Regions from separate parts of the Homo sapiens genome. Here region 1 is linked to region 2. The links come from fine-mapping of genetic effects on plasma protein levels. Region 2 holds a variant in brackets. A gene starts in the other region. All regions are shown on their forward strands.

The links. A credible set is the group of variants that fine-mapping cannot tell apart. PIP is the posterior inclusion probability: the model's chance that the variant is causal. Protein levels are from antibody-based Olink assays in UK Biobank. Linkage for the fine-mapping came from a reference panel and not from the study's own genotypes, which makes the PIPs less certain.
Region 1: it holds the start of KAZALD1, and the variant in region 2 is the best candidate, but not a certain one, in a credible set for the plasma level of the KAZALD1 protein (UK Biobank, PIP 0.86).

The regions. Positions count from the first base shown.
Region 1 is chr10:101,056,035-101,064,345 of GRCh38, forward strand. KAZALD1 (Kazal type serine peptidase inhibitor domain 1) reads left to right here and starts at 5,955. Exons shown (of 5, transcript NM_030929.5): 1 at 5,955-6,081; 2 at 6,508-7,069; 3 at 8,227-8,311. The coding sequence starts at 6,559. It overlaps LOC107984262 (a long non-coding RNA gene), which reads right to left and starts at 4,717. Exons shown (of 2, transcript XR_001747569.3): 1 at 4,076-4,717; 2 at 2,561-3,622. RefSeq lists enhancers at 4,598-4,892, 5,819-6,707 and silencers at 5,020-5,439, 6,620-6,669.
Region 2 is chr3:186,675,502-186,683,789 of GRCh38, forward strand. It overlaps HRG (histidine rich glycoprotein), which reads left to right. Exons shown (of 7, transcript NM_000412.5): 7 at 1,546-2,733. The coding sequence ends at 2,382. Among named protein-coding and RNA genes, the nearest start is that of HRG, 14 kb to the left of the region's middle. The variant A/G (reference allele first, on the strand shown) is at 1,823.

The DNA.
Region 1 (8,311 bases), not on the chromosome of region 2:
TGTATAAATTTCAATTTCCTGGTTTTGATAATTATATCATGGTTATATAAGATATTATGTTATCACCAGGGTAGGCTAGGTGACAGGTACATGGGAAATTTCTTTGCTATTTTCACAACTTCTATCCAAGTCTAAAATTCAAAATAAAAGGTTTTTAAAAAAATATCCAAGAGAGGAAATCCTTGCAGAACTGGCCATTTAAAAATTTTAGGCTCTAAAATTTTTACCTAATGGCTAAAATTTAAAAGAACAACAACAATACCAACTCTTGGCAAGGATGTGGCATAATGAAAACTCATCAACTGCTGAAGACTATATAAATTCATACATCACACTGGAAAAAGTGTATGGTAATATCTACTAATGTTGATAATCCCAGCATTTTGGGAGGCTGAGGTGGGAGGATTGCTTAAGCCGAGGAGTTTGGGACTAGCCCAGATAGAGTGAGACCCTGTGAGAAAGAAAAGAAAAAAAAAGAAAGAAAAGAAGGAAAGAAAGAAAAGAAAAGGAAAGAAAGAAAAGGAAGGAAGGAAGGAAGGAAAGGAAGGAAGGAAAGGAGGAAGGAAGGAAGGAAAGAAGGAAGGAAGGAAAAGAAAATCTACTAATGTTGAATATGCATATCACATGAAGCAGTAATTCCAATCCTAGGCATGTCCCAATTTCTATAAATGTCAAAACCAGGTAAACTTAAAGTATAGAGTTAAAGGTGGTTATTGGCCAGGCACAGTGGTTCACATCTATAATCCCAGCAATTTGGGAGGCTGAGGTGGGAGGACTGCTTGAGGTCAGGAGTTCCACACCAGCCTGGATAACATAGTAAGACTTTGTCTCTGCAAAAATAAAAATAAAAAAATTAGCTAGGTGTGGTGGTGTGCCTGTAGTCCCAGCTACTTGGGAGGCTGACGTGGAAGGATCCTTTGAACCCAGGACTTTGAGACTGCAACAAACCATGATCACGCCACTGCACTCTAGCCTGGGCAACAGAGAAAGACCATGTCTCAACAAAAACAAACAAACAAATCAAAAAAACAAACAAAAAAATGGTTATCTAGGGAGAAGAGGAGGGAAAATTATCGGGGAGGGGCATGATGGGGGCTTCTGAGGGTGTTGGCAATGTTCTGTTTCTTGACCTGGATAATCACAAGTGTTCATTTAGTAATAATTAATTTAACCATATATCTACTTTGTGCACTTTTCTGCTTGTCTATTATACTTCATAATGAAATTAAGTTAAAAACAAAATGAGAACAAGAAATGTAGAAAGGGCCAGGCGCGGTGGCTCACGTCTGTAATCCCAGCACTTTGCGAGGCCGAGGTGGGTGGATCACTTAAGGTCAGTTCAAGACCAGCCTGACCAACGTGGTGAAACACTGTCTCTACTAAACATACAAAATTAGCCTAGCATGGTGGTGCATGCCTATAATCCCAGCTACACGGGAGGCTGAGGCAGGAGAATTGCTTGAACGTGGAAAGTGGAGGTTGCAGTGAGCCGAGATTGTGCCATTGCACTCCAGCCTGGGCAACAACAGTGAAACTCTGTCTCAAAAAAAAAAAGAAAGAAAGAAATAGAAATGTAGAAACAATGTACATGTGGAATGATTTAAGCATCTTTTCTAAGTTTATCAATATAACATTTGGCCAAGTCATCAGGTTGGATGGAGCTACAGTCACCATTTCAAGGGTCAATGGGATACTGAAGGTGGGTGTTAGGGGGAGGGATTGCCTTTTGAGATATACGAAGGTAGACTGAGGCCTGATTTAGATGTCCTGAAGCTTATTCAACTTGCCTTAATGCCTAGGTATTCCAGAAAGCCAGTTCCTGGCTATTCCAGTCTTCATTTTGTAACACTACTTATAGCTGAATTATGTTTTCCTTTTTCTTTTCTTTTCTTGTTTTTTTTGAGATGGAGTTTTGCTCTGTCACCTAGGTTGGCGTGGTGGCGCGATCTCGGTTCACTGCAACCTCCGCCTCCTGGGTTCAAGCGATTCTACTGTCTCAGCCTCCCAAGTAGCTGGGATTATACGCATGCGCCACCATAACCAGCTAATTTTTGTATTTTTAATAGAGATGGGGTTTTGCCATGTTGGCCAGGCTGGTCTCGAACTCCTGACCTCAGGTGATCCGCCCACCTTGGTCTCCCAAAGGGCTGGGATTACAGGCATGAACCACTGTGCCCAGCCAATCTTTTTACCTGGCCACCCCAGCTTTGCTACATTTATCTTGACATTCTAATTTACCTATAAAAATAGCCTCTACTAGGAAGCCAAGGTGAGCAGATCACTTGAGGTCAGGAGTTCAAGACCAGCCTGGCCAACATGACAAAACCCTGTCTCTACTTAAAAAAAAAAAAAAAAAAAAAAAAAAATTAGCCAGGTGGCTACTCAGGAGGCTGAGGTAGGAGGATCGCTTGAACCCGGGAGGCCGAGGTTGCAGTGAGCTGAGATTGCGCCACTGTACTCCAGCCTGGGCGATAAAGCTAGACTCTGTCTCAAAAAAAAAAAAAAAAAAAAGGAAAAATAACTTATAAAGCAGTAGTGAGTATTACACTCAACCATTAGCCTCATTCCAAATTCTCTTAGGATGTTTATTGATGATATAGATGATAAATACACATACAGTTGTGATCAGTATCCATATACTTCTTCTTTTCTCTTAACCTTATTTTTCCATACATACTTTTCACTTTGTTTCCTACATACATTATTTTGAGTTTACCTATTTGTCATAGTTGGTAGCTACAAAGTATTCCATTTTAATTATCTATGTTGAGGTTTTTTTTTTAATCAACCAATTCTAATATTCACAGGAAGCACAATTTCTCCATATCCGTCTTTAATAGGTCAGTATGGACCATTTGTTTCATTCCTGCTTCTTCCTCAAAGTTGCAACTCTACTATTTTCACCAGCTGTGTCAAAACAGGGTTTGTGAAGTGACAGGTTGAAATATGTGGATCATTTGAAGTAATTTCTTTTCTTTACCAAATTAAACAATGACTGTATGCCTTGTTTCATCTTTTGTTGTTCATCTGTATAGGGCTCTTTTCACTCTTTTATTTTTAAAATTCTATTTTTTATTTTTATTTTTTGAGAGGGGGTCTTGCTCTGTCACCCAGGCTGGAGTGCAGTGGCGTGATCTGGGCTCACTGCAACCTCTGCCTCCCAGATTCAAGCGATTCTCCTGCCTCAGCCTCCTGAGTAGCTGGGATTACAGGCGTGCACCACCACGCTGGGCTAATTTTTGTATTTTTAGTAGAGACAGGGTTTCACCATATTGACCAGGCTGGTCTCAAGCTCCTGACCTCAGGTGATCCACCCGCCTCCGCCTCCCAAAGTGCTGGGATTAAGAGGTATGAGCCACCACGCCTGGCCCTAAACTTCTATTTTTAAAGAGACATGGTCTCTCGAACCCTTGAGCTCAAGGGATCCTACTGCCTCAGTCTCCCAAGTAGCTGGTGCTACAGGCGTGCACCACCACACTCCAGCTCATCATTCTGTCATTATACTTCAGTTATTTCATGTGTCAGTGACTGAAAGTGAACGTATGATAATCTTGTGAACACAGGGCTTCACAGTGGAAAGAAAACTACATTCTATACCTCATTCCTTCTTCAATACAAGCATCTGCAGGAAAAGGGGAAAAAAGAGGCGGGACCATCTATTATTCAACAAATTTCAACTTCACCCTGCCCATCTGGATCTAGTCTCCCTCATTAAATGCAAAGGATGCTGCCACCTGGCTCCTCTCCCTAGCAGTATTCACATCATCTAGGCTAGAAAATCCCTTCCCTTTGGCCTGTTTTGCACAAAACCGAGTAAACATTTTCAAAGTATATATACGCAAAATCATTTGCTATCTCTTTACTATGTATGATGCGCATAGGTGTTACTGAATATTTTGGAGCCTTGATGGATAAAGTATGGGATGTTGAGGATCGGGGAATGTATCTAAACTTTCAAGTTGTGTCCTATTCAAAAAACTCCCTTCTAAAAGCATTTTTACGGTATGTAGGGTTTTAATGTAACAAAATCTCTACTTAATAACAGCGGATCCCCTTTTATTATCTTTGTGCCTACCTGGATGCACGGTTCCAGCATGTTCTCGTCACGAACCACAAGCCCACCAGAGGGCGCTGGTTCCCCGTCTACCTACTGTTCTCCATCAGCGACTCAGAAAATCCAGGTTAAACACTCAGGCAGTCTTTCACATTTAATCCACAAATATTTACCGAGAATTTGACGTGCCACCAGGCGCGGGGCTAGGTTCACAAGATACAGTAGTGAGTTAGGCACGATTCCTACTACCAGAAGCTTAGAGCATAGGGAAGACTAAAAGTAAGCCACCGTCTACAATAGTAGGATAAGTGGAGAGTTTCTAGGTCCGTGGAGTTTGTTGTTGAATATCTGCTCCAGGCCTTAGAAGCCGGCAGCAATTCACTAAAAGATCCCGGACTTGTCTGCTCTGTATCCCAGCCAAGGAGCTCCGTCCCCAAGGTGTTTTGTTAGAGTCAGAGACCTCTCCTTGGGTGATTCCATTCGTCAGCCCCACAAGTCCCCGTCTCTGGCCTTTTTCAGGGTCTCCGGCAGCTCTCTGACAGTTCCCCTTCTGTCTCAGGTCGACACTTATTCCAAGGACCAGGGATTACTCACAACTATCCGCCAGAGTTTGCTCCGCCCTTTCTTTTTCCTGTTTAAAATCCGCGGGCTCTTAGTGTTCTCGGTTCCTAGATTTCCTGTTCTGATTCTCGCGACAGTTGCGAGGCCTCGCGTGAAGTTCCCTTCTAGTCCCTATTTCGAATTTGAGACCGGGAGAGAGTGTCTGCCCTTGCCCACCTCCTCAGAACCCCTCTGGCCAGGGATGGCGCCTACGTGGCTCGGGAGCCCCTGAATGAATGGGCTTGGCCCAACTTAGGGGCGCATTCCGACGGGAGAGTCCTGGCTGTATTCCGAGGCTCCAGTGCGCATGCGGAGTCGATCCCGCGCAGGCGGGCGGGGACGGCAGCCGGGTCTTGTGGGCGGAGCCTGACTAAGTGCCGCCCCCTTGCCGGCTGCAGATTGCTATTTCTGCCCCCCACCCTCGCCCATCCCCCCGCGAGCTGGACTGCGCCAAGGCTTCTGTGAGCCGCTTGGGGCCGGCCGGGGCGGGGCCTGCCCGACCCGGGTTTGGCTGGCGGGCCCCTAGGAATGCTCTCCTCCCCGCCCCCGGCCCAAAGTGCCACGGTGGCGGTGGTGGCGGCCGCGAGGCCGAGTGTCTCCGGCCCTGCCAGCCTCGCAACCGTAACCTGTAATCCCGACCCGAGGGACGCCCGCCGGGGAGGCGCCAGCCCGCCTCTCCCTGCGGCCGCTGGTCGGCTCCGACCTCGAATCACCCGGCTCACCCGCGGGTCGCAGCACCTGCCGGATGTGGGGAGGAAGAAGGAGGCCAGATGAGGGAAGGCGGATGTAGGCGCCCAGTCTGTCCGCGCCTTGGTGGGGCAGCTGGGTGGGCAAGCCTGCGGTCGCTCCCGGGAACCAGCCCTGGGCTGCGGGGAGACGAAGGTGGTTGGTCCTGCCCTCCAGGAGCGCCCCGACATCGACGTAAAATGACTTGGCACCAGAGCTCCTGCCGCCTCCCCCTTATGCAGCTGCCCTCGCCGACGCCAGGGACTGTAAAATCAGATGGGACAGGGCCTAGCCGTTCAGCCAACACTTTGAGCTTCCCAGCCAAACTCCTACCCCCACTCCCCGCCTCCGGTCCTCACCCCCTTCCTCTCTCCCAGCCTCGGTGTCTGGTTACGGCTCCTCTGCTCGCATTGTGACTTTGGGCCAGGCTGGGGGAAATGACCCGGGAGGGTCCCATGCGGCTACATAAAATTGGCAGCCTTAGAACTAGTGGGAAGGCGGGTGCGCGAAGTCGAGGGGCGGAGAGAGGGGGCCGGAGGAGCTGCTTTCTGAATCCAAGTTCGTGGGCTCTCTCAGAAGTCCTCAGGACGGAGCAGAGGTGGCCGGCGGGCCCGGCTGACTGCGCCTCTGCTTTCTTTCCATAACCTTTTCTTTCGGACTCGAATCACGGCTGCTGCGAAGGGTCTAGTTCCGGACACTAGGTGAGCACTCTGTGCCCCAGGCCATAAGCGAGGCGGCATCAGCCCCCCCAGTTCTCACCCCCCATTAGCAGCTTCTTACTTCTGGAGCCACCCATTCTCTTTGGGCAAGGATGCTCAGGGGCCAGGGATCGGAGTCGGGTGGTGCACGGAAGTGGTGCTGGTGGTGGGTGTGCGTGCGCCTGAGCCTTATCACCCTTTCCTCACCTCTCTTCACTCCCAGCCCTCCCAAGAACAGCCCAACTGATTGCTAACTGCCATAACTGGATAATCCCTAGAGGGTCACTAGGCCTGTGTGTTGGGGGAGGCTACTTGGTAGCAGGGGAGGGGGCGATGCTAGTGTCATGCTTTGGTACAAGAAGCAGTGAGGTTGGTCTTTCGGCACAGGCCCTGTTTCTGACCTCCTGACCTGGCTTCCCTTCCTGGCAGGGTGCCCGAACGCGCTGATGCCCCGAGTGCTCGCAGGGCTTCCCGCTAACCATGCTGCCGCCGCCGCGGCCCGCAGCTGCCTTGGCGCTGCCTGTGCTCCTGCTACTGCTGGTGGTGCTGACGCCGCCCCCGACCGGCGCAAGGCCATCCCCAGGCCCAGATTACCTGCGGCGCGGCTGGATGCGGCTGCTAGCGGAGGGCGAGGGCTGCGCTCCCTGCCGGCCAGAAGAGTGCGCCGCGCCGCGGGGCTGCCTGGCGGGCAGGGTGCGCGACGCGTGCGGCTGCTGCTGGGAATGCGCCAACCTCGAGGGCCAGCTCTGCGACCTGGACCCCAGTGCTCACTTCTACGGGCACTGCGGCGAGCAGCTTGAGTGCCGGCTGGACACAGGCGGCGACCTGAGCCGCGGAGAGGTGCCGGAACCTCTGTGTGCCTGTCGTTCGCAGAGTCCGCTCTGCGGGTCCGACGGTCACACCTACTCCCAGATCTGCCGCCTGCAGGAGGCGGCCCGCGCTCGGCCCGATGCCAACCTCACTGTGGCACACCCGGGGCCCTGCGAATCGGGTACGCATGGCCCGGGGCCCCCACCCCAGCACTTAGGTTTCCTAGAGGCACTGCTCCCCGACCCCTGACAGCATTGGTCTCTGGCCAGCAGAGCAAAAAAGATAAGGCTATAGAGGCCTCGAGTCCAGTATAAAACCCTGCTCTCGCTACTGGTTCATAAAAGCTGCCACCTTAAGGTGGGGGTGGGGGGTGGAGTGGAGTGGGAGTCCCGGGCTTCGTCAGCAAGCTGCATTCGCTGAACCACGTGAAAGCTCCAGAGCTGGCTGGCAGGGAGAGACAGGTCCTCTGAGGGCGCAGGCACATAACCTATGGTTTGCTCAGAGACCCCCCCGACTTTTCCCAGACCAGTGGAGTCCAGGCAGCAAGACGGGTTCCTGTGAGATGCAATCACGTTTCATTCTTAGAGCAGTTTGTTCACCCAGTCTCCCCACCTCTCTGCTTTCTCCTGCTTTTAGGGATTAGTGAAGGGGAGCGGGAAGTTCTTTCTCTATCCCTGGGGACTGGGGTCCATTCAGGCCTCTAGCTTTCCTTGGTAGCTTTAGTAACTTTCACTTCCTGAGCCCGGGCTCTGCGTCTGGCTCGGCTGGGGCAGCCAGAAAACAAACACCCCGTGGGGGTCCCAGCAATTTCCTCCACTCCTGCAGGCTTCCTGCCTGTCGCACAAGTCCAGCTTCAGGTTCTCTGCCTTGCCGCAGGACTCCCCCAGGGGGTACTGAGGAGGGAACGGCTGCTTTTCCTCCTTTGGGAACTGGGCCTGTTTAGAAAAGGGGAAGGGGGATCTGGAAGGTTTTGATTACAGGCACGCAGGAAAGGCTGGGGAGGGTGAAATGAGGACAGGGGAGCAGTTAGGGACAGAGTGGCTGCCAAGCTACAATGTAGATGTGTGTGCTTGTTTGTGCATTGGGTCTGCATGAGGTTCTATGTGCACATGTGCATGTATACCTATCTCCACGTCTGCGTGGTACCCTTGTGTGTACCAGCATCCATATCTGTGTGTACCTGTGTGTGTCACGGTGTGTTTATGGATGTGTATTTACCTCAGCATATATTGTGTTCTGCCACAAGCATGTCCACAAAAATTTGTGTATCATGTCTTTGCCAGACTGGATGCCTTTGCTGGGCCATGCTATTCTCAGACCTCCCGCCTTCACCCCCAGGGCCCCAGATCGTGTCACATCCATATGACACTTGGAATGTGACAGGGCAGGATGTGATCTTTGGCTGTGAAGTGTTTGCCTACCC
Region 2 (8,288 bases):
TGGCAGAAAATTAAAATCATGTCCAATTCAACCAAACTTGAAGGAATTTGAAAATGCTCTTTGTAGTCGGGACTCTAGTGCTGAGACTTAGTCATTCCTAAGCTTATATTATTGGGCATAGAATCTAAGAGGAATATATCAGCCTCAAATTTATTATGTAAATGTATATAAAATAAGATGCAAAACCATATTTTGCATCTGTCTCAGAAATCTTTGGTCTATTTTTTACATGAGTACAAAGATTTGCTTCACGAAATTTTTCATATCAGAAACAAAACTTAAAATAATCCAAACATCCAATCCCAAGTTAAAAAAAAGAAAAAGGAACAAAGGGCAGGATTGTCACCATGAACATGGCTCTGTCTTTTTTTTTTTTTTTTTTTTTGAGAAGGAGTTTTGCTCTTATTGCCCAGGCTGGAATACAATGGTGCCATCTCGGCTCACCACAACCTCTGCCTCCTGGGTTCAAGCGATTCTCCTGCCTCAGCCTCCTGAGTAGCTAGGATTACAGGCATGCGCCACCATACCTGGCTAATTTTGCATTTTTAGTAGAGAAGGGGTTTCTCCATGTTGGTCAGGTTGGTCTCAAACTCCTGACCTTAGGTGATCCACCTGCCTCAGCCTCCCAAAGTTCTGGGATTACAGACATGAGCCACCGTGCCCGGCCTCTGTAGCTATTTTTTAAAAAATTAAACTCTGAACAAGGAAGAGAGAGAAGAGGTCAAGTGTTCAGCCTTTAGGAGTAAGGGATGTTGATACCATCAAGCCTCAGTTAAGAATATCAGTTATAAGGCACTAGTTTTCCAGTGTTGGTCTACAGATGGGTGCCAGGTCATAATATTGTTTCACCACTCTGTGTAGTAAAAATGAAAAAAAAATAAGGATAATGAAGTTTTTTATATCTAACATTTATCCATCTAAAGGACAATCCTTTACTCTGATATTGTGTTTCTGGCTCTTTCTTTTTTTTTTAAATCAAAATTTCATTCCAGGCTGGGCATGGTGGCTCATGCCTGTAATCCCAGCACTTTGGGAAGCTGAGATGGGTGGATTACTTGAAACAAGGAGTTCAACATGGTGAAACCTGTCTCTACTAAAAATACAAAAATTAGGAGTCTGGGCAACAGAGTAAGACTATGTCTCAAAAAAAGAAAAAAAAAAATTAGGTGGGCATGGTGGCTTGGGCGTGTAGTCCCAGCTACTTGGGAGGCTGAGGCAGGAGAATTGCTTGAACCTGAGAGGTGGATGTTGCAATGAGCAGAGATCGCACCACTGCACTCCAGACTGGGTGACAGAGCGAGACTCAGTCTCAGAAAAAAAAAATAGTTTCTTTTGTGAAACAATGATGGTGGTAAATGATAGTTATTGTTAATATTTTAAATATCAACTGGGCTAGATAACAATTTGAGAATCTTTTTTCGTAATACTTTTTAAATTGATTTGTGGAATCTATGATCTGGGAGCCATTGGTGTAAATCAAGTCAAGTATCTAACATCTTCTTTTATGTTACATGATGATAGGCACTTTTCTGTGACCTTTTCCAGGAACATGAGAACATCAATGGTGTACCGCCTCATTTGGGACATCCCTTCCACTGGGGTGGGCATGAGCGTTCTTCTACCACCAAGCCTCCATTCAAGCCCCATGGATCTAGAGATCATCATCATCCCCACAAGCCACACGAACATGGACCCCCACCTCCTCCAGATGAAAGAGATCACTCACATGGACCCCCACTTCCACAAGGCCCTCCTCCACTATTGCCCATGTCCTGCTCAAGTTGTCAACATGCCACTTTTGGCACAAATGGGGCCCAAAGAC[A/G]TTCTCATAATAATAATTCCAGTGACCTCCATCCCCATAAGCATCATTCCCATGAACAGCATCCCCACGGACACCATCCCCATGCACACCATCCTCATGAACATGATACCCATAGACAGCATCCCCATGGACACCACCCCCATGGACACCATCCTCATGGACACCACCCCCATGGACACCATCCCCATGGACACCATCCCCACTGCCATGATTTCCAAGACTATGGACCTTGTGACCCACCACCCCATAACCAAGGTCACTGTTGCCATGGCCACGGCCCACCACCTGGGCACTTAAGAAGGCGAGGCCCAGGTAAAGGACCCCGTCCCTTCCATTGCAGACAAATTGGATCTGTGTACCGACTCCCTCCTCTAAGAAAAGGTGAGGTGCTGCCACTTCCTGAGGCCAATTTTCCCAGCTTCCCATTGCCGCACCACAAACATCCTCTAAAGCCAGACAATCAGCCCTTTCCTCAATCAGTCTCTGAATCATGTCCAGGGAAGTTCAAGAGTGGGTTTCCACAAGTTTCCATGTTTTTTACACATACATTTCCAAAATAAAATGTGATTCCTTTGAAGAGGAAAATGAATAATACATTGAATTAGAAACATAAATAAAATGACCAGTAATTGTGAAAATTACAGTTCTTTTCAACCTACTTTCATACTGAAGATGCAGCAAAATGTGAATGGGAAAAGAGATGGCCTGAGAAGAGAGATCAAATGGAAAGGAGAGGAAAGAACTCAGTGCTGCCTATTAGTAGTTAATTCTGTCACTCACCACTACATCACTTGAGACAAATCTATGCCACTCAGAATCTCCTTCTTTCCTGGACTTAACTCTAATTCTAGAGTCTCTGTTACTGCTTGGGCTATACCTGGGCATACTAATAAAGTATGGTATTGAAACTATTGTTATCATTTATTTCATTTTATTTTCTAAGTTCCAGGGCACATGTGCAGGGTGTGCAGGTTTGTTATATAGGTAAAAGCATGCCATGGTGCTTTGCTGCACCTATCAACCCATCACCTAGGTATTAAGCCCAGCATGCTCTAGTTCTTTTTCCGAATGCTCTCCTGCTTCCCACCCTCCCCCTATTTATTATTATTAAAGTGACCTAAATTCTCTCCTCGTGATTATTACTAGGCATCTAAATTTTCTTTTGGAAAAATAAGTTCTAAATTCAGTATTGAAGCAAACAAACCTCTGGCTATAAATTGCAAAGAAGCTTGCTAACATGAATCATGACCATAAATTCAGGTGCATAAGAAATGTCACTTTATGCTCAGAACAAATTAATTTCTATTTGAGGATGCCATCCTACTGGCTTAGTGGAAATTTAACCCCAGTCCTTCTTGGAGTCCCCTTTCCCTGCCCTGCTACTTTCCACACAAAGTTGGGCCACAGTTCTAGGATCTCACACCATGCCAAGCTGTCCAGGTGGTAGGAAGCAGGATAGTGACTATCCCTCAGCCAGGGTGACTGTTGGACCAATGATCATCATCATGAGTGATAGCCATCCTGCTCAGGGATAGTCACAACCCTGTTCACATCACTCTTTCAGTCTGATTTATCTGCTACTTCTGTAGAAAACTGGGGGTGCAGGAATGTCTGTACACTAGCCATGGACATGACTGCCAAGGTATGGCATATGGCTGCTCTCTCCCTGGGATCTTGCTGTCTTCCCAGCTGCATGCCCAGAAAGCAGGGCAGAGATCTCCTCTGCCTCAGAGACCCCTTACCTCACTCTTCTCCCTATACCTTCTCCCTCAGCTAACGACTCTCTTGCTAGTCTCAGGTAAGTTCACTTTATTTATTTTTAGGGCCAGAAGACTTTTTCCACACTATACTCCTCTTTCTTTTTCCTCCTCAAATCAGGACTCAATCATTTGAAACAAACTAAAAGAATTCAGATTCTGTCTATCTTCCAACTGCAATAGTGATACTCAAAGTATTTCATAATCAACATGACCCAAGCACTGACCAATCAGACCAGAAACAACAACCTATCAGAACAGTCACCATCCATAAACAACCAGCGTGACCACACTGGCAGGTGCAGCTGAATGTGGCCCTGCAGAATCACATTCCTCCTGGAGGCATGGACACCAGGTCAGCTGCTTGAACAGGGAGAGGAGAAAGGTGAGACCCATGGAGGGCAAAAGATACAGAGGTTAATAACTCAGAATGTATCCTCCCACAGAAGCACTGGAGTAGGATTCAATAATTTACAAAGTACTTTCATAAACTTTGCTTGAGTTAATGAAAATATTCCTTGGAATACAGAGGAGTTGAAGCTCTCAATTCACTTCAGTTAAGGGCATTCTTCCTATGCACACCCGACACTGCGAGGGAATAATGGGATAAGAAACCATTCCCACCTCGGGATGGTACGTTCTACTAGAGGTTTTAGACAATACACCATGCTTTTCTAGACTTCTTTTTGTTTGTTTGTTTGTTTGTTTTCACAGAGTCTTGCTCTGTCGCCCAGGCTGGGGTGCAGTGGCGTGATCTCAGCTCACTGTAACCTCCACCTCCTGGGTTCAAGTGATTCCCCTGCCTCAGCCTCCCGAGCAGCTGGGACTATAGGCTTGCGCCAACACACCCGGCTAATTTTTGTACTTTTAGTAGAGACAGGGTTTCACCATATTGTCCAGGCTGGTCTCGAACTCCTGACTTTATGATCCACCTGCCTCAGCCTGCCAAAGTGCTGGGATTACAGGCGTGAGCCACCGCTCCCGGCTGCTTTTCTTATGTCATCCCAGCTAAAAAGTGTATCAGTATCTGTTTACAAATATTTCATAAACTTTCAAAGGTGACATTCACAGAGGCAACATAATTAATGCCTCTTCAAATGTCTAAAGCCCAAACTCTTCATTCTTCTCCAGAAAAGCTCTCCCACTTCCTAACATCAGCCTTTCTGTCAGTGGCAATACCATTCTTAAAATCCTTCAGGCTAGAAATATTTATTGATTTTCCCTTTTTCTTCATCCCCAATTTATGCTATAACAGAAAACACTTTGTCTGCTTTGTTCATTAAAGCACTTGCCACACAATAAGGGTTTAAGAAATGTTTGTATAATAAGCAGGTACATTAAACATTTACTATGAGTCTGAAGATACGGCTGATCACAGTGGCTCACGCCTATAATCCCAGCACTTTGGGAGGCTGAAACAAGTGGATCACTGGCCAACACGGTGAAACCCCATCTCTACCAAAAAATACAAAAATTACCTGGGCATGGAGGCTGAGGTGGGAGAAATACTTGAACCCGGGAGGCGGAGGTTGCAGTGAGCCAAGATTCCATGACCGCACTTCAACTTGGGCAACAGAGAAAGACTCTGTCTCCAAATAAATAAATAAATAAATAATAAAACTTAAAATTAAGTTGTTTAATATATTTTGTAATTTAATCTTTACCAACAGCTCTCTCATGCAGAAAATGTCATTGTATCAGAATAGGCCAGTTGCTGGAACAAACTCAAGTGGCCTAATGATGGAGAATTTGATTTCTCTTTCATGTTACAGGTCAATATGGGTTATCAGCAGATGGCCATCCAAATGGTGATTCAGGGTACCAGGCTCCTTTTGTCTGGGGGCTCTGCTCTCCCCTTGACCTCAGAATTGTCTCTTGGATCCTCTGCATCCAGCCCACATGGGGAGAGAGTGGAGGATCATGAAGGTGGTTTCTGTGGCCCAGGCCTGGAAGGTGCATGCATGATTCATGCTCACATTTCACTGCCTAGAACTCAGTCATATGGCCACACCTAATGCAAGGGAGATGGGGAAATGAAGTCTGCCTGTACTCCAAGGAGGAAAGGGACCTAGGTAGGGAAAACAGGCTGTACAATCAACCATTTCTTAGGGAAAGAAGAGAACCAAAGAGGCTGAATTACTTGCTTAGGATCTCGCAGTCAGTAAATGTGGGACTGGAATTAGAACCTTGATTGGCCTCCGCCAAAGCCACATGCTGTCTTCTTTATGACACTGCCGGTGATGGTGCCCAGGCCTGTTTCTGAGTCTTCACTGGAAACGCTTGCTGGTCAGCCGCTACCATTCTGGTCTACTTCCCCCTGGACAGTGCTCCCTTATGCATTTCTTCATCCTCCCAGTGTTCAGCTTCCACATTTCTGCTTCTCCTCCTTCCTCTCAACCTAAGAACTTCACAAAATCTCTTCCATTTTTCATATTTTCCACACAACTCCCCATTAAAATCTGCCTTCTCCCATGACTATGCACTTGAACCTATTTCAGTCAGGCAGGGATTCTTAGACACCTTTCCCTAGTATTAGAGATAGCTTAAAAGAACTAATCACCAGGTCCTGCACAGGAGTGAATTATTCACAGGAGTGAATAATTACCTCATTCACTCCTCAGAAACACCCTGTTAAGATATCATGATTTTCCACCATTACAGGTGAGAAACCTAAGCCTCAGAACATTTATGTGACCCTGTCTTCCTTGGGATCACCTAGGTAAGTAGGCAGAACTACATTAGAATCCAGGTTGGACTTACTGCCAAGTTCATGTTCCTGCCCCACCCCTACAATAGCCCCACTGGCTCCTATTGCCCCTTCTTCTCCAGGGACTCCAGGGAGAATCAGTTGGCAAGTTAGATTGGCAAGAGATCCTAACAGCAACAGAACTTCAATCTTTTATGCTTGTAAGACTTGAAGATACACGTTTACTACAGGAAAACACATGTCTCTAACCTACCTTTAAAATTCCTCTCTCCGAATAGTCTAACATTATGAAAAAGGTTGCTTAGGCTTGGTGAATGCAAAACACCATATCCACTGTAGGGGCAAAAAGTGCAATGCCCTTCCTCACCCATCCTCAGGGTCACAGCTGACTTACCTACAACAAACGACAGGTGGGCAAGAGAAAGCAGAGCATATTTATTTAATCCAAGTTTCTATAACATGAGAGCCTTCAGAATGAAGGCCCAAAGACCCAAGGGACAACTGCCCATTGCTAAGCTTAGATTCCATGAAGACTGGACAGCAGCGTGATCCAACAAAAAAGAAAAGATATGATAGTAATAGACTATCGGGGAAACCCCACAAGGCCTTCAGTTGGAGTTCTCCATTGGCCTCTCTGTGGCATTTCTTGCTCCCAGTTATGGTGCAGGACCCAATTGGCATGCAGATCTTAGGACCTACTAGCAGACAGAGTAGATTAGAGAATTTATTTTATGGCCAGCTCCTACACAGAAAGGCCTGGATGAAAGGTGAGAGTCATATTTTAGGTTTCATGGCTGCTTTGAGACAGAGAGATTCCTCTTTCTCTGACCTGCCTGTTGGAAGAGGAATTCTAGTTTCTATGGCTTGCCTTGGGAGAGAAAGGGGAGTAGGAGGACAAAGAGTGGGAGCAGGTCAGACAGTTCTTGCTTCTGAGGTCCTTTTGGTTTCCTTCAGTTCAAGGGGCGCAGCATGCCAAGGCACAATACTGTGGGGTATCCTTTTTTGAGCCCTAAAATATTCAAGTGAACACAGGAGTGGTAAATGTACTGGAACCATCTAATGAAGGGAGATCTAGTCGGATTGCGTGGGAGAAGCCTTCAGCCAATGTATTAGTCTGTTTTCACACTGCTGATAAGGACAGATCTGTGACTGGGCAATTTACAGAAGGAAGAGGTTTATTGACTTACAGTTCCACGTGGCTAGAAGGACCTCACAATCATGGTGGAAGATGAAAGGCATGCCTTACATGACAGCAGACAAGAGAAGAGAGCTTGTGCAGGGAGACTCCCCTTTTTAAAATCATCATATCTCATGAGACTTATTCACTATCATGAGGATAGCACAGGAAAGACCTGCCTCCATGATTCAATCACTTCCCACTGGGTCCCTCCCACAACACATGGGAATTCAAGATGAGATGTGGGTTGAAACAGAACCAAACCATATCATTCTGCTCCTGGCTTTCCCCACATCTCATGTCCTCACATTTCAAAACCAATCACGCCTTCCCAACAGTCCCCCAAAGTCTTAACTTATTTCAGCATTAACTCAAAAGTTCAAAGTCCAAAGTCTCATCTGAGACAAGGCAAGTCCCTTCTGCCTATGAGCCTGTAAAATCAAAAGCAAGTTAGTTACTTCCTAGATACAATGGGGTTACAGGCATTGGGTAAATACACTCATTCCAAATGGGAGAGATTGGCCAAAACAAAGGGGCTACAGGCACCATGCAAGTCCAAAATCCAACAGGGCAGTCAAATCTTAAAGCTCCATGATCTTTGACTCCATATCTCACATCCAGGTCATGCTGATGCAAGAGGTGGGTTCCCATGGTCTTGGGCAGCTCTGCCCCTGTGGCTTTACAGGGTACAGCCTCCCTCCCAGCTGCTTTCATCAGCTGGCATTGAGTGTCTGTGGTTTTTCCAGCCACACGGTGCAAGCTGTCTGTGGATCTACCATTCTGGGGTCTTTAGGATGGTGGCTGTCTTCTCGCAGCTCCACTAAG